Linked DNA regions of Homo sapiens: region 2 is linked to region 1. Evidence: fine-mapped expression QTL. A gene starts in region 1. The other region holds a variant in brackets. All regions are shown on one strand. Distances are between the middles of the regions. Region 1 holds the start of ITCH (itchy E3 ubiquitin protein ligase). Region 2 has its middle 26 kb from the start of ITCH.

Evidence for each region.
Region 2: its variant is fine-mapped to the expression of ITCH in whole blood (INTERVAL, PIP above 0.99). The same link has a PIP of 0.9 or more in blood mononuclear cells.

The regions. Positions count from the first base shown.
Region 1 is chr20:34,357,854-34,367,746 of GRCh38, forward strand. It overlaps ITCH (itchy E3 ubiquitin protein ligase), which reads left to right and starts at 5,420. Exons shown (of 25, transcript NM_031483.7): 1 at 5,420-5,496. RefSeq lists a silencer at 5,725-5,954.
Region 2 is chr20:34,332,696-34,342,588 of GRCh38, forward strand. No RefSeq gene overlaps it. Among named protein-coding and RNA genes, the nearest start is that of ITCH, 26 kb to the right of the region's middle. RefSeq lists enhancers at 5,565-5,674, 5,725-5,774. The variant G/A (reference allele first, on the strand shown) is at 5,835.

The DNA of each region.
Region 1 (9,893 bases):
TTAGGCATTCTTCATTCTTTTTTTCAGACGGAGTCTTACTCTGTTGCCCAGGCTGGAATGCAGTGGCATGATCCTGCTCACTGCAACATCTGCCTCCTGGGTTCAAACAATTCTCCTGCCTCAGCCTCCCAAGTAGCTGGGACTACAGGCGCCTGCCATCACTCTTGGCTCATTTTTGTATTTTTAGTAGAGACAGGGTTTCACCATATTGGTCAGGCTGGTCTCGAACTGCTGACCTTGTGATCCACCTGCCTCGGCCTCCCAAAGTGCTGGGATTACAGGCGTGAGAGGTTAGGCATTCTAAGTCACAGAATGAGAGGGGTTTGGCACAAGATACAGGTCATAAAGACCTTGCCAAAAAAGAAGTTAGCTAAAACCCACCAAAACAAAGATGGCAATTAAAGTGACCTCTGGTCATCCTCACTGCTCATTATATGCTAATTATAATGGATCGGCATGCTAAAAGACACTCCCACCAGTGCCATGACAGTTTACAGATGCCACGGCAACATCCAGAAGTTACCCTATAAGGTCTAAAAAGGGGAGTAACCCTCAGCTCTGGGAATTGGCCACCCCTTTCCTGGAAAACTCATAAATAATCCACCCCTTGTTTAGCATATAATCAAGAAATAACTCTATCCTTAGACCAGCATCTCGAGCCATTGCTCTGACTATGGGGTAGCCATTCTTTTATTCCTTTACTTTCTTTTTTTTTTTTTAGAGGGAGTCTTGCTCTGTCTCCCAGGCAGGAATGCAGTGGCAGGATCTCCGCTCACTGCAACCTCTACCTCCTGGGTTCAAGCGATACTCCTGCATCAGCCTCCTGAGTAGCTGGGATTACAGACGTGCGTCACCATGCCTGCCTAACTTTTTTTGTATTTTTAGTAGAGATGGGGTTTCACCATGTTGGCCAGGATGGTCTCAAACACCTGACTTCCAGTGATCCACCCGCCTCAGCCTCCCAAAGTGGTGTGATTACAGGTGTGAGCCACCACGCTCGGCCTCCTTTACTTTCTTTTTTCTTTTTCTTTTTTTTTGAGATGGAGTCTTGCTCTGTTGCCCAGGCTGGAGTGCAGTGGTACGATGTCGGCTCACTGCAGCCTCCACCTTGCCTCCTGGGTCCTGGTTCAAGCAATTCTCCTGCCTCAGCCTCTGGAGTAGCTGGTATTATAGGCGCACGTCACCACGCCCAGCTAATTTTTGTATTTTTAGTAGAGGTGGGGTTTCACTATGTTGGCCAGGCTGGTCTTGAACTCCTGACCTCGTGATCCACCCCCCTCAGCCTCCCAAAGTGCTGGGATTACAAGCGTTAGCCACCACGCCCGGCCCCTTTACTTTCTTAATAAACTCATTATCGGCTGGGTGCCGTGGCTCATGCCTGTAATCCCAGCACTTTGGGAGGCCGAGGCAGGTGGATCACCTGAGGTCAGGAGTTCAAGATCAGCCTAGCCAACATGGTGAAACTCCACCTCTGCTAAAAATACAAAAATTAGCTGGGTGTGGTGGTGTGCGCCTGTAATCCCAGTTACTCAGGAGGATGAGGCAGGAGAATCACTTGAACCCAGGAGGCGGAGGTTACAGTGAGCTGAGATTGCCCCACTGCACTCCAGCCAGGGTGACAAGAGCAAAACTCTGTCTGAAAAAGAATAATAAATAAATAACTTGTTTTCACTTTATTGTATGGACTTGCCCCAAATTCTTTCCTGCACGAGATCCAAGAACCCTCTCTTGGGGTCTGAATCAGGACCCTTTTCCTGAAACAGTAACACCACCCAGATCAGGGCACAGAACATTATTACCTATCCTGAGAGGTGTCTTTGTGCCTTCTTCCAGGTACACCCTCCCCTCAAAGAGTAACCAGTATCCTGACTTCTAACACCATAGACTAGTTTTGCCTAACCTTACATAGTTTTTAAAATTGTAGGTGAATACAGAATCTGGAGCTACAGGACTTAGGGTTAGATCCCTGGTTCCTGGCTGAGTGATCTTCAACAAGCCATTTAATTTCTGTCACACTCAGTTTTCTTCTCTGTATAATGGTCATAAAAATACCTTGTACTGGCCGGGTGCGGTGGCTCACGCCTATAATCCCAGCACTTTGGGAGGCTAAGGCGGGCAGATCACAAGCTCAAGAGTTCAAGACCAGCCTGGCCAATATGGTGAAACCCCATCTCTACAAAAATACAAAAATTAGTCAGTCGTGGTGGCATGCACCTGTAATCCCAGCTGCTCGGGAGGCTGAGGCGGGAGAATCGCTTGAACCCGGGAGGCAGAGGTTGCAGTGAGCGGAGGTTGGGCCACTGCACTCAAGCCTGGGCGACAGAGTGAGACTCAGTCTCCAAAAAAAAAAAAAGCAAATTCTCAGGCCCTGCCCCAGACCTACTGAATCAGAAACTCTAGGAGTGGCCTCAGCAACCTACAGTTTAACTAACTTTGCAGGCAATTCTGATAAGTACTGAGGTTTGAAAACCACTGCACTAGAGAAACTGAATGAGGATGGGGCGCAGGAATCTGTATTTTAGCAATCTTTCCTAAGGCATGTTGCAGGAAACATGAAGTGGTTTTGAAAGTACTTTGCTTGAGGCTTGAAGGCTTGAACCTAGGAGTTTGATTTTTTATTTTTTTTAGATGGGGTTTCACTCTGTCACTCAGGATGGAGTGCAGTGGCGTGATCTTGGCTCACTGCAGTCTCCGTCTCCTGAGTTCAAGCAATTCTCCCACCCCAGCCTCCCGAGTAGCTGAGATTACAGGGGTGTGCCATGCCCAACTAATTTTTGCATTTTTTTTTTTGAGACAGATTCTCGCTCTGTGGCCCAGGATGGAGTGCAGTAGCACGATCTTGGCTCACTGCAACCTCCGCCTCCCAGGTCCAAGCAATTCTCTGCCTCAGCCTCCTGACTAGCTGGGATTACAGGCACCCGCCACCACGCCCGGCTAATTTTTGTATTTTTAGTAGAGATAGGGTTTCACCATGATAGCCAGGCTGGTCTTGAACTCCTGATCTCGTGATCCGCCCGCCTTGGCCTCCCAAAGTGCTGGGATTATAGGCGTGAGCCACCGTGCCCGGTCTAATTTTTGCATTTTTAGTAGAGATGGGGTTTCACCATGTTAGCCAGGCTGGTCTTGAACTCCTGACCTCAGTTGATCCATCCGCCTCGGCCTCCCAAACCATGCCCAACAAATTTTTGCATTTTTAGTAGAGACAAGATTTCACCATGTTGGCCAGGCTGGTCTCAAACTCCTGACCTCAGGTGATCCACCCGCCTCAGCCTCCCGAAGTGCTGGGATTATAGGAGTGAGCTACTGCGCCCAGCCTTTATGTTTCTTTTGTTGTTTGTTTTTTGAGACAGAGTCTCGCTGAGTCGCCCAGGCTGGAGTGCAATGGCGTGATCTTGGGTCACTGCAACCTCCCCCTCCTGGGTTCAATCAATTATCGTGCTTCAGCCTCCCAAGTAGCTGGGATTACAGGCACCCGCCACCACACCTGGCTAATTTTTGTGTTTTTAGTAGGGAAGGGGTTTCACAAGGCTAGGCGTGGTGGCTCACCCAACTCTACTAAAAATACAAAAATTAGCCAGGCGTGATGGCATGCGCTTGTAGTCCCAGCTACTTAGGAGGCTGAGACAGGAGAATCACTTGAACCCAGGAGGCGAGCGGAGGTTGCAGTGAGCCAAGATTGCGCCACTGCACTCCAGCCTGGGCGACAGAGCAATACTCTGTCTCAAAAAAAAAAAAAAAAAAAAAAAGAGACGGGGTTTCACCATGTTGGCCAGACTGGTCTCAAACTCCTGACCTCAAGTGATTTGCCTGCCTTGGCCTCCCTAACTCCTGGGATTACAGGTGTAAGCCACTGACCCTAGCCAAGCCTAGGAGTCTGAGAACAGCCTGGGCAACACAGGGAGTCCACGTCTCTACAAAAATAAAAACAATTAGGATAGTGTGGTGGCTTGAGCCTGGAGTCCCAGCTACTCAGGAAGCTGAGGTGAGAGGATCACTTGAGCCCAGGAGGTTGGCTGCAGTGAGCTATGATTGCACCGCTGCACTCCAGGTTGGGTGACAGAGCAAGACTCTGTCTCAAAAAAAAAAAAAAAAAAAAAGTCACTTTGAAAAATGTGACTTTCCAGATGGCAAAATACTATTTTCATTAGGAGGAAACAGGCTAAACAGTAATAGCAAAGGTCACTAAGTATTGAGCACTTAGTCATACCTCTGAGTCTCTGCCTGCATAGCCTATTATTTCTCACAAGCAATCCATGAAGAAGGTTAAGACAACGGACTTTCACGCCAGACTGCCTGGGTTCTTATCAAGTATGTGACTTAGTTTATATATTTGTAAAATGGGGATAATAATGGTATTTCTGTAATAGGTTTGTTGTGAGAATAAAGGGAGCTTGGTATCAGCTCTTAGAATACCGGACAGGCCACGTTGGCTCCACTAAGCTGTTGTCATCATCCCTAAGGGCACCCAGTTAAAAGGTAGAAAAGGGAGGATTTGAATCCGGTCAGTGTAACTCTCAAGTGTACATTTTTTTTCTTTTATTTTCTTTTTAACCACGCCCTTTAATGTACATTGTTAAAGGCTAAGCCAGGCCAGGTGCAGTGGCTCACATCTGTAATCTCAGCGATTGGGAGGCCCGAGGAGGGAGTATCGCTTGAGCCCAGGAGCTGGAGACCAGCCTGGGCAACATGGCGACACCGTGGCCCTATTCCCGCCCCATCCCATCCGCACTCCACCCCATCCCCATCTCTACAAAGAATAGAACAAAATTAGTCGGGTGTGGTGGTGCTCAACTGCTGTCCCAGCTACTCAGGAAGCCCAGGTGGGAGGCTCGCTTGAGCCCAGGAGTGTGAGGCTGTAGTGAGCTATGACTGCACCACTGCACTCCAGCCTGGGTGAAGGGTGAGACCTTATCTCAAAAAGAAGAAAAAAAAAGAAAAGGAAAAGAAAAAGAAAAAAGAACAACTAAGTTATAAACTAAGCTATATAGCCCATTGGTTCTCAAATTATGATTTCACTCACTAGCAGTATCACTAGACAGCTTGTTGGACATGCAAATTATCAGACCCTATCCTCCTATGCCAGATCTTCTGATCAGAAACTCTGGGGGTGGGGGTCAGCAGTGTAAGTTTTAATAAGCTCTCTAGGTGATTCTGATGCACACCATAGTTTGAGAATCACAGTCCTTATAGGCTCTGGTGGGCGGGGTGTTAAAAAAAAAAAAAAGCCTGGAGGTGCTGGGAGCCGCTCGCGCCCATCTCACCTGGAGCTGAGGAAAACTGGGATTTAACTGATTTACCACCGCAGCCAGCTCTTCAAGCCAGGGGCGGGCCGGACGGCTGGCGCGCAAGGCCTGCTGGGGCTTGTAGTCTAGACCACTTCCGCGCTCAGGCGCCTGCGCTTTAGCTGCTAACTCGCTCTAGTAGCTGTGGTCGGGGCTCGGGACCGGCTGCCATCTTAGTCTAGGGACTGAGGAGTCGCCGCCGCCCCGAGTCCCGGTAAACCCCCGTGGGCGAACTCGGGGCAGTTCTCGGGAGAGGGAGGGAGTCCGGATGAGAATGTTCGGGGAGAACAAGGGTAGAGGAGTGGGACGCGCGGTTCGGGACCCCAGAGCCGCGGCTGCTCCTTCTTCCAGAGCCGGTGTCTGTCGGGGGCGCGGGGAGCTCGGGCTACTGGCCCGGGCCGGGCGGTGGGGGTGGGCTGTCTGGACGTTCGGAGGGATCAGTGTCTGGCACAGGCTTCCGGAGGCCTTCGCCTCGCGGGCTCCAAGTTGTGAAAGGGCTGGGCCACGACGGGCGTGGGTACCGTCCGGCCCCTCGCCCCTCAGCCCCGCCTGGGGCCACTCTCCAGCGGTTCGGCCTACGCGCGGGGCCCGGCGGCGGGGCCGGCGCGGGCGACGTGGCCCTGTGAGGGGCGGCGGCCGGGTCCCCCGCCACCCAGCTGGCCTTCTCGAGACTTTTCCGAGCCCCCAGTCGCTAGAAGGGCCCAGCACAGCGGCTGCCTCCCCTTCTCTCTCCCACTCGCCTCCTCCTTCCATTGTCCCCCCGGCGTGGTGGTCCCGGCTCCGGCGCCCTCCCCGACGTCCGCCACCGTCGTGGCGGCGCCGACTTTTGCAGACGTGGAGCTGTCACTGCCCTTCCTCCGGAGAGTGCCCTTTTCTTTAGCAGAGAAAAGAAAAAAGTAGCCGTTGAACGTATTCTAAGGGTCGAAGCATGATGACATGACTTTTAAGTGGAGAACTCAAGTTTTCCAAGACAGTTCCCGTCCGCGACAGAAAAGAGAATCGCAGAATTTGTGCGCCCGAAGTAGACGCTGGGCCTAAAGTTAGTTGGACATGTAACCAGGTGAACTTGTAAAGGGCCAGGAATTCATTATCCCCAATAACAACGCAACCTTGTTTTCTTGGTTGTATTCGTATCCTAATCTTATTACATTTTCTGCCATTCTTCCACAGCTACAGTATACTTGGTTTGGAGTGGGGGATGGGGAATTGTGGGATTTTTGCCTTGAAAATTAGTAAGACCCTGGAGCCAGCCACCCACTTAGGTGGGTTCTCCTGCATCTTTTCCTGATAGAATTCGATCTTCAGGAAGTATGTAAAGGCAGTGTATTTCCATTCTCAAAATCGGCTAAGGAATGGTTTATCAGTTGAGGTGAAGTTCTCATGGCAGATCTGCTGAGAGCTTGCTATGTGTATTTACAGGTTTATTTAAGCTACGATTTATTTTTAAAATTAAGAAATGGGCCGGGTGCTGTGTGTGGCTCACGCCTGTAATCCTAGCACTTTGGGAGGCCGAGGCGGGCAGATCATGAGGTCAGGAGTTCGAGACCATCCTGACCAACATGGTGAAACCCCGTCTCTACTAAAAATACAAAAAAAAAAAAAAAAAAATCCTGGGCGTGGTGGCGCGCGCCTGTAGTCCCAGCTACTAGGGAGGCTGAGGCAGGAGAATGGCTTGAACCCGGGAGGTGGAGGCTGCAGTGAGCCGAGATCTCGCTGCTGCACTCCAGCCTGGGCGACAGAGCGAGACTCCGCCTCAAAAAAAAAAAAAAAAAAAAAGCAATGGGATGGGTGTGGTGGCTCACGCCTGTAATCCCAGCAATTTGGGAGGCCGAGGTGGGCGGATTACGTGAGCCCAGGAATTGGAGATCAGCCTGGGCAACATCGTGAAACCCCGTCTCTACAAAAAATACAAAGATTTGCCGGGTGTGGTGGCAGGCGCCTGTGGTCCCAGATACTCAGGAGGCTGAGGTGGGGGAATCACCTGATTCCGGGGGGTCGAGGCTGCGGTGAGCTGTTACCGTTGCCACTGCATTCCAGCCTGGGTGACAGAGTGAGACCCTGTCTCAAAAAATAAAAAAAAAAATTTAGAAATGAAGGTGGAAATTCTACTGCTTCTTTGAACTGTGAATTTAAGTTTTGTGAGTCCAAAAGGAATTCCATTACATTCAGCATACAGGTCAAGTCACCAAGGATATCATATGAAATTAAAAAAATGAGTACAGACTACTTCTTCAGTGTATTCTAGAATCAAACATTTCTACATTCTTTAGAAAAAAATACATCTTTTTCGTTTGTTTGAGACGGAATCTAACTTTGTCACCCAGGCTGGAGTACAGTGGTGTGATCTCGGCTTACTGTAACCTCCGCCTCCCGGGTTCCAGCAATTCTTCTGCCTCAGCCTCCGTAGTAGCTGGGACTACAGGCGCGTGCCACCACTCCCGGTAATTTTTTTGTATTTTTTAGTAGAGATGGGTTTTCACCATATTGGCTAGGCTGCTCTCGAACTCCTGACCTCGTGATCCACCTGCCTTGGCCTCCCAAAGTGCTGGGTTTACAGGCATGAGCCGCCACTCCTGGCCCTAAAAAATACATCTTTTCACTTATTGGGAGAGGCAGACAAACCAGTAGTCCCCAAATTTGACCATTAGAATAATTAGGAGAGCTTAGAAATTCCAGGGTCTTACCTTCTGAGATGGATTTAGTAGGTCTGGGTTGGCTTCAACCAATTTATTTTTAACACATGCCTTAGGTAATTCTGATGGTCTTGGGAACCACTGAGGGCAAATGGTACTGTAGACTTACCAAGGAAAGGTCAAAAAGCTTTGAGACGAAAGAGGAAGTGGCCAATTCTGTGTGTGTGGCTGGGTGGAGGATTGGTTAGAAGAGGCAAGATTTGCCCCTGAACCCACATTGGGTCTTACATGAAGAGTAGGAGTGTGAAAAGGGCGGGGAAAGAGAAGGACAGGGTAGGCTGAGTGAATGCCTTAATGCTGTGTGTAAATTCAGAGGATTATGGAACAAAAAGGGTTCAGGGAGTGTGGAGTGGAATGGGGAAGGAGAGCATTTTGAAACGCAAGGTCAGAAAGGTTAAAGGAAGCAAGTATATGAAAAGTGATTTTTTGTTGTTGAGACTGGGTCTCACCCAGTCACGCAGGATGGAGTGCAGTGACAGGACCTCCAGAGCTCAAGTGATCTTCCCACCCCAGCCTCCCTGAGTAGCTGGGACAACAGGCATGCATTAGCATGCCTGGCTAATTTTTAAAATTTTTTTGTAGAGAAAGGTTCTCTTTACGTTGCCCAGTCTGGTCTTAACTCCTGTGTTCAAGTGGTCCTCCCACCTTGGCCTCCTAAAGTGTTGGGATTACAGGTGTAAGCTACTGTGCTCTGGCTAAAAATTTTAAGTATAATGCTAAAAATTTGGAATTTTATGTTGGTAGAAATAGATACAGGGCTGGGCTCAGTGCCTCACACCTGTAATCTCAACAGTTTGGGAGGCTGAGGCGGGTGAATCGCTTGAGCTCAGGAGTTTGAGACCAGCCTGGGCAACATGGTGATATCCCGTCTTTACCAAAAGGAAGGAAAAAAAAAAGAAATAGATGCAGATTTTTCGACAGGGAAATGATGTGAGTACATATGTGTTTTAGAAAATTGCTGTGTACTGCAGGACAAAGATAGGTATCAAAAAACAAAAAAAGAAAGATTGCTCTGGTGATGAGCGAAAGGATGAGGGACTAGCTATTGCAGAAGTCTAGTTGAGAAATGACAAAGCCTGACCTTGGAGAGAGGTTGTGGGGATGATCAAAGGATTGGATTTAGCTTTTTACTAGTGCAATATTGTTGCCATATTTCTAGATGAGGATTTTTTTTTAGAGCTAATCTGGGTAAAGGGCTCCTTTTCTGTCAAAAGAACCCATTAGCAAGTCTGAATAATATTGCCAGGTTATATATGTTATGTATAGTATGAGAGTGAATTGTTCATTAGCATCTTTGAGAAATTAGAAAGAACTATGTCAGGTGTAATTTGGAAGAGAACTTGAAGTTTGTTATTGTTACTATTTTTGAGATGGAGTCTTGCTCGGCCATGCAGGCTGGAGTGCAGTGATGTGATCTCGGCTCACTGCAACCTCCACCTCCCGGGTTCAAGCGATTCGTGTGCCTCAGCCTCCCAAGTAGCTGCCTCCCAAGTAGCTGGAATTAGAGGTGCATGCCACCAAGCCTGGCTAATTTAGAACTTGGAGTTTGGACTGAAATTTATGCCTCTAAAAAGTATTGATCTAGGCTTGTTGGGAGTGTTTTTCTCTCAGCCTGTAGAAACTTGCTCATTGAGTTTTAGAGTTGGGAGAAGTTACAGAGATTATCTAGTCCATAATGGCAAATATATTTTGGTTTATTGGCCAGCTCTAATTGGAAGCTGCCAGAAGCACTGTGTTTGGAAGGATTCTGGTTGTAGGTGCTCTGAGAAATTGTATTATGGTTGATCAATGATGTCTCCTGTGGACAGTTACCTAGTAGGTAGTAGACATGTGCCAAATATATGCTATTCTTAGATAAGTCCAATCTCTTAGTTTTCTGTTTTGTTGTTGTTTGTTTGTTTTAAAGGTTAAATAATTT
Region 2 (9,893 bases), 25 kb before region 1:
ATGGAGCTTGCTCCTGTGTCAGTGCTTGGAGTGGCTGGCCAGATCCCGCACTCACTCACGTGCTCCCTCCTGTAAGGGGGTGAGTGCGGCAGGCCAAGTAGACAGGGCGCCCCTGCCGTGAGTCCAAAAAAAGAAAAGGCTGAGAAATATCCTGCATCAGAAGGATATAAACCACATTTATGACCTGTTATCTCTGGGGCAAGGATTGGCAGAAAGGGGCTGAGTGTGGTGGTTCACACCTGTAATCCTAGCACTCTGGGAGACTGAGGCAGGAGGATTGCTTGAACCCAGGAGTTTGAGACCCCCCTGGGCAACATAGTGAAACCTCGTCTCTGCAAAAAAAATAAACAAAATTAGCCAGGTGTGGCACACACCTGTAGTCCCAGCTACTTGGGAGGCTTGGGAGGCTGAGATGGGAGGATTGCTTGAGCCCTGGTTAAGTTGAGGCTTCAGTGAGCTGAGATTGTGCTACTGTACTCCAGCATGGGTGACAGAGCAAGACCCAGTCTAAAAAAAAAAAAAAAAAAATAGAATTGGCAGAAAAGCCAAAAGAGAAATGTTGCTTTTTTTCCCCTGGACTCTGGTCACTAACTACCTATGTGATCTTGAGCAGACTGTAGCACTTCTGTGCCTCAGGCTCCCCATCTGTAAAATAGGGACACATTCGTAGTTACTTGATAAATGGTTGTAAGGATTAAGTGAGTTAACATACATAAAACATGATAAAACATGAATAGTAGTGCCTGCTACAATGTTGGAATTAAATTTGTTTTCATTCTTCTGTGACTTTTCATGGTACTAATGGTACTAAATAATCTCTGTCTTGCTGGGCATGGTGGCTCACACCTGTAATCCCAGCACTTTGGGAGGCCGAGGTGGGTGGATCACCTGAGGTCAGGAGTTCAAGACCAGCCTGACCAACATGGAGAAACCCCGTCTCTACTAACAATACAAAATTAGCCGAGGTGGTGGCACATGCCTGTAATCCTAGCTACTCAGGAGGCTGAGGCAGGAGAATCGCTTGAACCCAGGAGGCAGAGGTTTCAGTGAGCCGAGATCGCACCATTGCACTCCAGCCTGGGCAAAAAGAGTGAAACTCTATCTCAAAAATAATAATAATAATAATAATCTCTGTCTTGATCAGAAGTTGGGGAGAGTCTCCCCTCACCATTCCTTCAGGGTCTTATGCGGAGGAAAAGCTGTTAAAAAAAAAGTGTAAAGGTCAAAAGTAATAAGGAAATCATGCCCTCTGCAGGGAAGCAGCCACCATACCCAGCCCACACGGAACGTGGCTGTGGCTGAGCAGTGCCCCCAGCTCCTGGGTGGGCCTCTCCTCCCTTCTAAGAGTTTCTGTAAAAAGATTTTTGAGTTAAAAAAAAAAGTGCAAAGGATTATATTGGAGACAGAGGGTTAAGACAATGACGCTAGGATAAAGACAAGCCTGTGGGTGGTGGAAAAGACTGGGTTGTGGGGTTGAGGGGGGTCCAAGATCCAGTAGGCCTAGAATCCAAGAACAGAAGCTAATTATCCTAGTTCATCAAATTTAAGATCCATCATTGTAATATACACCACTATTTTATGTTCTTTTTTTTTGAGACAGAGTCTTGCTCTGTTGCCAGGCTGGAGTGCAGTGGTGGCGCGATCTCGGCTCACTGCAACCTCTGCCTCCCGAGCTCAAGTGATTCTCCTGCCTCAGCCTCCCGAGTAGAGTAGCTGGGACTACAGGCATGCGCTACCATGCCCAGCTAATTTTTGTATTTTTAGTAGAGACGGGGTTTCACCATGTTGGCCAGGCAGGTCTCAAACTCCTGACCTCGTGATCTGCCCACCTCGGCCTCCCAAAGTGCTGGTGGCACAGGCATGAGCCACCACCCCCGGCCTATGTACTTTTTAAATGCTGCAATTAGCTTATTATGTCATTAACTGTTACATGCATTCCAATTTCAAAGATATTAAAAGGTAAACAAATGTGCATCATAGAATCATTAAAATATGAGTCCCTAAGCACTGAAATTGGAAACAATGCCCTTGCCCCAATTTTTTAAAATGTCCCTGAACTGTAAAATAAATAAACATAAGGGGATTTCCCCAAGATGATTACTTTTAAGTTTTATGAGGGAAAATGGTAAATGTCAAATTCTGTCCCTAAACCATATCTCATCTCTTTTGTTCCTCTGTAAGGGCTGAATCAGCCTGTTGGGTGACCCAGGCCTGCCCTGGGGGAGGGAGGAAATCCACACAACTGAGTCCTTTGAGCCTCTCCCCTGCCCTGAGTTCAGTAGCAGCTGGAAAGGGGCCCAGCTTTATGGGGGAACAATGGTGCCAGCCAGCTTCGGGTGAAACAAGGCTGAACAGCCTGGCTGGGTCTGGCCTGGGTCCAGAAGAGTGCCCCTTGCACCTGAGGGGTCCGCTCCCCTTCAGCAAAGGACAGATGAAGCCAGGGAAAGTGGAGAAAGAACTCCCTGGGCTTTCTCCGTGAACAGCTCTCTACGTAGAATCCCAGAATCACCCAGCCAGAGGACCTCAGTGTCCATGGAATCAAACTGCTCCATTGTACAGATGGGAAAACAAAGGCCCCAAAGGGGGCTGGAGCTTGCCTAAGGTCCTTCAGTAAGTCAGTGGCAAAGCTGGAGCCACAGTCAGGTTCCCTTTAATTCAGCATGTCTACCATTAAGTGCAAGTCTGTGCGATCTTTTGCTGTTTTTTGTTGTTTGTTTGTTTCTGTCTTTTAAAAATGCCCAAATTGGCTGGGCGCAGTGGCTCACGCCTATAATCCCAGCACTTTGGGAGGCCAAGGTGGGTGGATCATTTGAGGTCAGGAGTTTGAGACCAGGCTGGCCAACATAGTGAAACCCTGTCTCTACTAAAAATACAAAAATTAGCCAGCGTGGTGGTACATGCCTATAATCCCAGCTACTCGGGAGGCTGAGGCAGGAGAATCGCTTGAACCTGGGAGGCAGAGGTTGCAGTGAGCTAAGATCACGCCACTGCGCTCCAGCCTGCGTGACAGAGAGAGACTCCTACTCAAAAAAAAAAAAGAAAGAAAATGTCAAATTATGTTGCTTGTACAAAATGTCTGTCTGACACATCAGATAGTGTCTGACTCACCTGCCCATTGGAATGAGAAGCTCAGGATCTCAAGCATGAATGCCTCCAGGATAGAGGAGACCTGTGGGTACATGCCTGCCCCTACTCCTTCAAACTAATATTTACTGTGACATAGTAACTTCCTGGCTTCAAAGCTCACCTCTAACGCTTCCCATGTATGTGACCTTGGGCAAATTACTTATCATCGTGGTAGTGGCCTCCAAGATGGCCCTCAATGATTCTCTCTTCCTACATAACCACCAGGCTACTGCAGAAACAGGTGTGACTTCTGAGGCCAGGTCAGAAAAGACAATGCAAGGCTGGGCACAGTGTCTCATGCCTGTAATCCTAGCACTTTGGGAGGCTAAGGTGGGAGGATCACTGGAGTCCAGGAGATTGAGATCAGCCCAGGCAACATAGCCATAAAACGAGACCTCACCTCTACTAAAAAGAGAAAAGAAAATTAGCACCTGTGGTCTCAACCTACTTGGGAGGCTGAGGTGAGAGAATCGCCTGAGCCCAGGAAGTCAAGGTTGCAGTGAGCTGAGATGACACCACTGCATTCCAGCCTGGGCAATAGAGCAAGAACCTGTCTCAAAAAATAAAAACAGCCAGGCGCAGTGGCTCATGCCTGCAATCCCAGCACTTTGGGAGGCCAAGGCAGGCAGATCACGAGGTCAGGAGTTCGAGACCACCCTGACCAACATGGTGAAACCCCGTCTCTATTAAAAATACAAAAATTAACCGGGGGTGGTGGCACGTGCCTGTAACCCCAGCTACTCAGGAGGCTGAGGCAGGAGAATTGCTTGAACTTGGGAGGCAGAGATTGTAGTGAGCCAAGATCGCACCATTGCACTCCAGCCTGGGCAACAGAGCGAGACTCCGTCTCAAAAACAAAACCAAACAAAAAAACAAAGAGACTGCAGCTTCCATCTTGCTCTCTTGGATCACTTGCCCTAAGGGAACTTAGCTGCTATGTTATAAGCACACTCAATGTTATATGCTATGTTATAAGCACAGCCCAATGCAGGGACACACACAGCAAGAAGTAACTGAGACTGCTTGCCAACAGCCAACTGCTTTGCCAGCCGTGTGCACGGGCCCGCTTGAAACTGTATCCTCCAACCCCAGTCCAGCTTCCAGATGACTGCAGCCCTGGTCAACATCTTGAAACTTATGAGATGTTTCTGGTGAGAATCACTCAACTAATCAGCTCCTGAATTCCTTGCCTATAGAAAATACCTGAGGTAATAAATGTTTATTGCTGTTTTAAGCTTTGTAGTTTTGGGGTAATTCCTGACACAGCCACAGACAATGAATACAATCACACTTTGCCTCCTTTTCCTTAAAATGAGGATGATGGGAGGACTTGCTTTATATAATCATGAGGATTCCATATGATACATGAAAAGAATCTGGCTAAGCTGGGTGCAGTGGCTCACGCCTGTAATCCCAACACTTTGGTAGCCCAAGGTAGGTGGATCGCTTCAGCCCAGGAGTTTGAGACCAGCCTGGGCAACACAGTGAAACCCCGTCTCTACAAAAAATACAAAAATTAGCTGGGCATGGTGATGTGCGCCTATAGTCCCAGCTACTCGGGAGGCTGAGGTGGGAGGATCGCTTGAGCCTGGGAAGTTGAGGCTACAGTGAGCTGTGATTGTACCACTGCACTCCAGCCTAGGCCACAGAACAAGACCCTGTCTCAAAAAATAAATAAACCAATAAATAAAAATAAGAAGAGTCTGGCTCATAGCAAATGCACAGCAGATAGGAACCAATATTGCTGTATTATTATATGGTCTCCACTAATCAAGAGGAGAGGTTGAGAGCTATATGAGGAAGGGCCAAAAGGAAAGATGAAGTAGCAACCCCCAGTCTCTTCATTTTCCTGGCAATTCAGCTCTGACTACATTTTCATAGAACCTCCTAAGACAGAAGCCCCATGGGGAAACTTGATCTCCCTAGAAGGCAGTGTAGGGACTATTTATCACTCTGCAAGCATTCCCCTTCGGGTGCTCAGTCTTCATCATCCCCACCACTAGAACTTATCAACTAATTTCTTGCTTATCTACTAGGAGTCCCCAGTCAACAGAATTGACTCCATCTCAGCACTTTCCAGGGACATTCCCAACCTCTGGAAGCTATCCAACAAAGGCTTCCTTTGCTCCTTAATTTATCTCTGAGAAGCAGGTTTAAATTTTAGCTCTGCTGGGTTGGGCACAGTGGCTCACACCTGTAATCCCAGTGCTTTGGGGAGGATGAGGCAGGCAGATCACTTGAGGTCAGGAGTTCAAGACCAGCCTGGCCAACATGGGGAAACCCCGTCTCTACCAAAAATTAGCTGGTCCTGTGATACACTAGCCTGTAGTCCCAGTTACTCAGGAGGCTGAGGTTAGAGGATCACGTGACCCCGGGAGGTGGAGATTGCAGTGAGCTGTGATGGCGCCGCTGTTCCCTAGCATGGGTAACAGAGTGAGACCCTATCTCAAAAAAAAAGACCTAAACAAAAATTTTAGCTCTGCTACCGATTTGTCCTTTGTCAAGTTACTCAACCCCTTGAGCCTCATCTCCTCGTCTGCCAAGCAGAAATAGCGAATATTTGCTTCCGGGTTGTTGGGGGAAGAAAATGAAGCAAGACAGCAAGGTATGAATGCTTTATTGGATGGAAATAATAAATTGTCAATGCCTCCGGACTCTCAGGTGCTGCTCAACGCCCTGCCCTGCCCCAGGAAGCTTCTCCCCACAGC[G/A]GAAGCCACTTAGCTCTCACATGCAGGCTCTGCCCTGTGCTGGGCTTGACACCAACTTTGGTGGTTTTTGTTTTTGTTTTCAAGATGGAGACTCGCTCTGTTGCACAGGCTGAAGTGCAGTGGTGTGATCTTGGCTCACTGCAACCGCCACCTCCCGGGTTCAAGCAATTCTTCTGCCTCAGCCTCCTGAGTAGCTGGGATTACAGGCGCCCGCCACCATGCCTGGCTAATTTTTGTATTTTTAGTAGAGACAGGGTTTTACCATTTTGGCCAAGCTGGTCTTGAACTCCTGACCTCAAGTGATCCACCCACCTCAGCCTCCCAAACTGCTGAGATTACAGGCATGAACCACCAGGCCAGGCCTCTGTTTTTTTTGTTTGTTTGTTTGTTTTGGTTTTTTTTTTTGAGACAAAGTCTCCCTCTATCACCCAGGCTGTATGTAGTGCAGTGGCACGATCACAGCTCACTGTAACCTCCACCTCCCAGGTTCAAGCGATTCTCGTGCCTCAGCATACTGAGTAGCTGGGAATACAGGCTTGCGCCACCGCATCCTGCTAATTTTTGTATTTTTTGTAGAGACGGGGTTTTGCCACGTTGGCCAGGCTGGTCTCGAACTTCTGATCTCAGGTGATCCACCCGCCTTGACCTCCCAAAGTGCTGGGATTACAGGCATGAGCCACCACTCCTGGCAGCTTTGTTTTTTAATCAGGGAACTTTTTTTTTTTTTTTTTTTGAGACAGAGTTTTGCTCTTGTTGCCCAGGCTGGAGTGCAATGGTGGGATCTTAGCTCACCGCAGCCTCCGCCTCCCAGGTTCAAGCAATTCTCCTGCCTCAGCCTCCGGAGTAGCTGGGATTACAGGCATGTGCCACCATGCCCGGCTAATTTTGTATTTTTAGTAGAGATGGGGTTTCTCCATGTTGGTCAGACTAGTCTCGAACTCCCGACTTCAGGTGATCCGCCCGCCTTGGCCTCCCAAAGTGCTGGGATTACAGGCGTGAGCCACAGCACCTGGCTTAATCAGGGAACTTTAACCAGATTTTATCTCTTTCATCAGGGGTTCAGCAGTAACTAGCATATGTGCCTGACTGAATGCCTCCTTCTTATGACCAAGGCCAGCTTAAGATAAATTATTTTTATTCCTATTTATTTATTTATTATTTATTATTATTACTTTTTGAGATAGAATCTCACTCTGTCGCCCAGGCTGGAGTGCAATGGCGCGATCTCGGCTCACTGCAACCTCCGCCTCCAGAGTTCGCGCCATTCTCCTGCCTCAGCCTCCAGAGTAGCTGAGACTACAGGCGCCCGCCACCACGCCCGGCTAATTTTTAGTAGAGACGGGGTTTCACCGTGTTAGCCAGGCTGGTCTCGATCTCCTGACCTCATGATCTGCCCACCTCAGCCTCCCAAAGTGCTGGGATTACAGGCGTGAGCCACCGCGCCCGGCCTATTTATTTATTTTTGAGAAGTGGTCTTACTCTGTCACCTAGGCTGGAGTGCAGTAGCGTGATCATGGCTCACTGCAACCTCGACCTCCTGGGCTTGAGTGATCCACACCACTGCACTCCACCCTGGGCTACAGAGCGAGACTCCGTTTCAAAGAAAAAAAAAAAAGGAAGAAAGAACTCAGGGTTGGCAGAACAAGCTGTAGTGTCTCTGCCTTGCATCCTGGCATCTCCTCTGGCCTGACTCCCCAGGGTGATTTTAGGAGTTGTTCCTACCTATGCATAGCTCCCAATACTATGGCTTTGCCCCTCATGGAGATTCTGTGAGCCACCCAACATCCTGTAATAACTCTTTCCTGTTTAAACTGAAGTGAGTTGGTTTGTTTTGTTTGCAACTAAGAATCTTGATTGACACACTGCATAACAACTCTATCAGTATGTGTACCATTTGTATTATTTTGAAATAATTTTTTATTTAATTAGTTTTTTAAAGTAATGACAGTCACTTGTGAAGCCACCATCCCAAAATAAAATGTAGAACCTTAACAATAACCTACATCTGACTATATACCTCCCTCCCCACCCAACCTCTTTCCCAACCCTAGTAACCATCCTCCTGAACCTTATGCTCATCATTCCCTGTTGCACATTATTTTTAATTTTCTGTTGAAATATAATATACATATAATAAACTGAGCAAATATTAAGTGTACAATTCAAATAATTTATGTGTGTGTATAGATTTTTGTGTAACCAAATCAACATATAAACATTTCCCGCCAGGTGCAGTGGCTCACTCCTGTAACGCCAACACTTTGGGAGGCCGAGGCGGGCAGATCACCTGAGGTCGGGAGATTGAGACTATCCTGGCTAACCCAGTGAAATCCTGTCTCTTTTAAAAATACAAAAAATTAGCCAGGCGTGTTGGTACATGCCTGTAATCCCAGCTACTCAGAAGGCTGAGGCAGGAGAATTGCTTGAATCCGGGAGGCGGAGGTTGCAGTGAGCTGAGATCGCGCCATTGCACTCCAGCCTGGGCAACAAGAGCAAAACTCCATCTCAAAAAGCAAACAAACAAAGAAACATTTCCCATCCCCTAGAAGCCTCTCTTGTGATCTCTCCCAGCCAATTCCTGACACTTGAGAGTTACCAGTATTCTTACCTCTGTCACCCTAGGTTTGTTTTGCCTGTTCTTTTGTTCTTTTTTTTTTTTTTTTTGAGATGGAGTCTCACTCTGTCACCCAGGTTGGAGTGCAATGTACAATCTCGCCTCGCTGCAACCTCTGCCTCCTGGGTTCAAGTGATTCGGTGATTCTCCTGCTTCATCCTCCCAAGTAGCTGGGATTACAGGCTTGTGCCACTACGCCCAGCTAATTTTGTATTCTTAGTAGAGATGACGTTTTGCCATGTTGGTCAGGCTGGTCTTGAACTCCTGACCTCAGGTGATCCGCCCACCTCTGCCTCCCAAAGTGTTGGGATTACAGGTGTGAGCCACCGCACCTGGCCTGTTTTGCCTGTTCTTAAAACATTTAAACAAAGTAGGCCTGGCACAGTGGCTCATGCCTGTGATCCCAGCAACGTAGGGTATATTTTAGTACAAGGCGGAAGGATCACTTGAGCTCAGGAGTTCAACACCAGCCTGGGCAACACAGCAAGACCTTGTCTCTACAAAAACTTTTTAAAAAATTAGCCAGATGTGGTGGCTCACGCCTGTAGTCCCAGCTACTTGGGGTGGGCTGATGTGGGAGGATCACTTAAAGCCAAGAGTGCAAGGGTGCAGTGAGCTATGATCACACACTGCACTCCAGCTTGGGTGACAAAGAGAGATCCTGTTTCAAAATAAATAAATAAATAAAATAGTAAAGTATATTTTTTATGGTATGCATTTTTTTGGTCTGGCTTCTTTCACTATCATTATGTTTCTGTAATTCTCCTGTTTTTGCAAGTAGCAATAGTTGTTCTTGTTTTTTTTTCTTTCTTTTTTTTTCTTTTTTTGAGATGGAGTATCGCTCTTCTTGCCCAGGCTGGAGTGCAATGAATGGCACGATCTCGGCCCACTGCAACCTCCGCCTCCTGGGTTCAAGTGATACTCCTGCCTTAGCCTGCCGTGTACCTGGGATTACAGGCGTGCACCACCACGCCCGGCTAATTTTTTTTTTGTATTTTTAGTAGAGATGGGGTTTCATCATGTTGGCCAGGCTGGTCTCCAACTCCTGACCTCAGGTGATCTGCCCCCCTTAGCCTCCCAAAGTGCTGTGATTACAGGTGTAAGTCACCAGGCCTGGCCTCATATTTTTCTTTAAATTGACTCACTTCATTTATTTTATTTAATTTATTTATTCATTTTATTTTATTTTATTTTTGAGACGGAGTCTCCCTCTGTCACCCAGGCTGGAGTGCAGTGGTACAATCTTGGCTCACTGCAACCTCTGCCTCCCTGGTTCAAGTGATTCTCCTGCCTCAGCCTCCTGAGTAACTGGAATTACAGGTGCCCACTGCCACGCTCAGCTAATTTTTGTATTTTTAGTAGAGATGGGGTTTCACCATGTTGGCCAGGCTGCTCTCGAAGTTCTGACCTCTGGTGATCTGCCCACCTTGGCCTCCCAAAGCTCT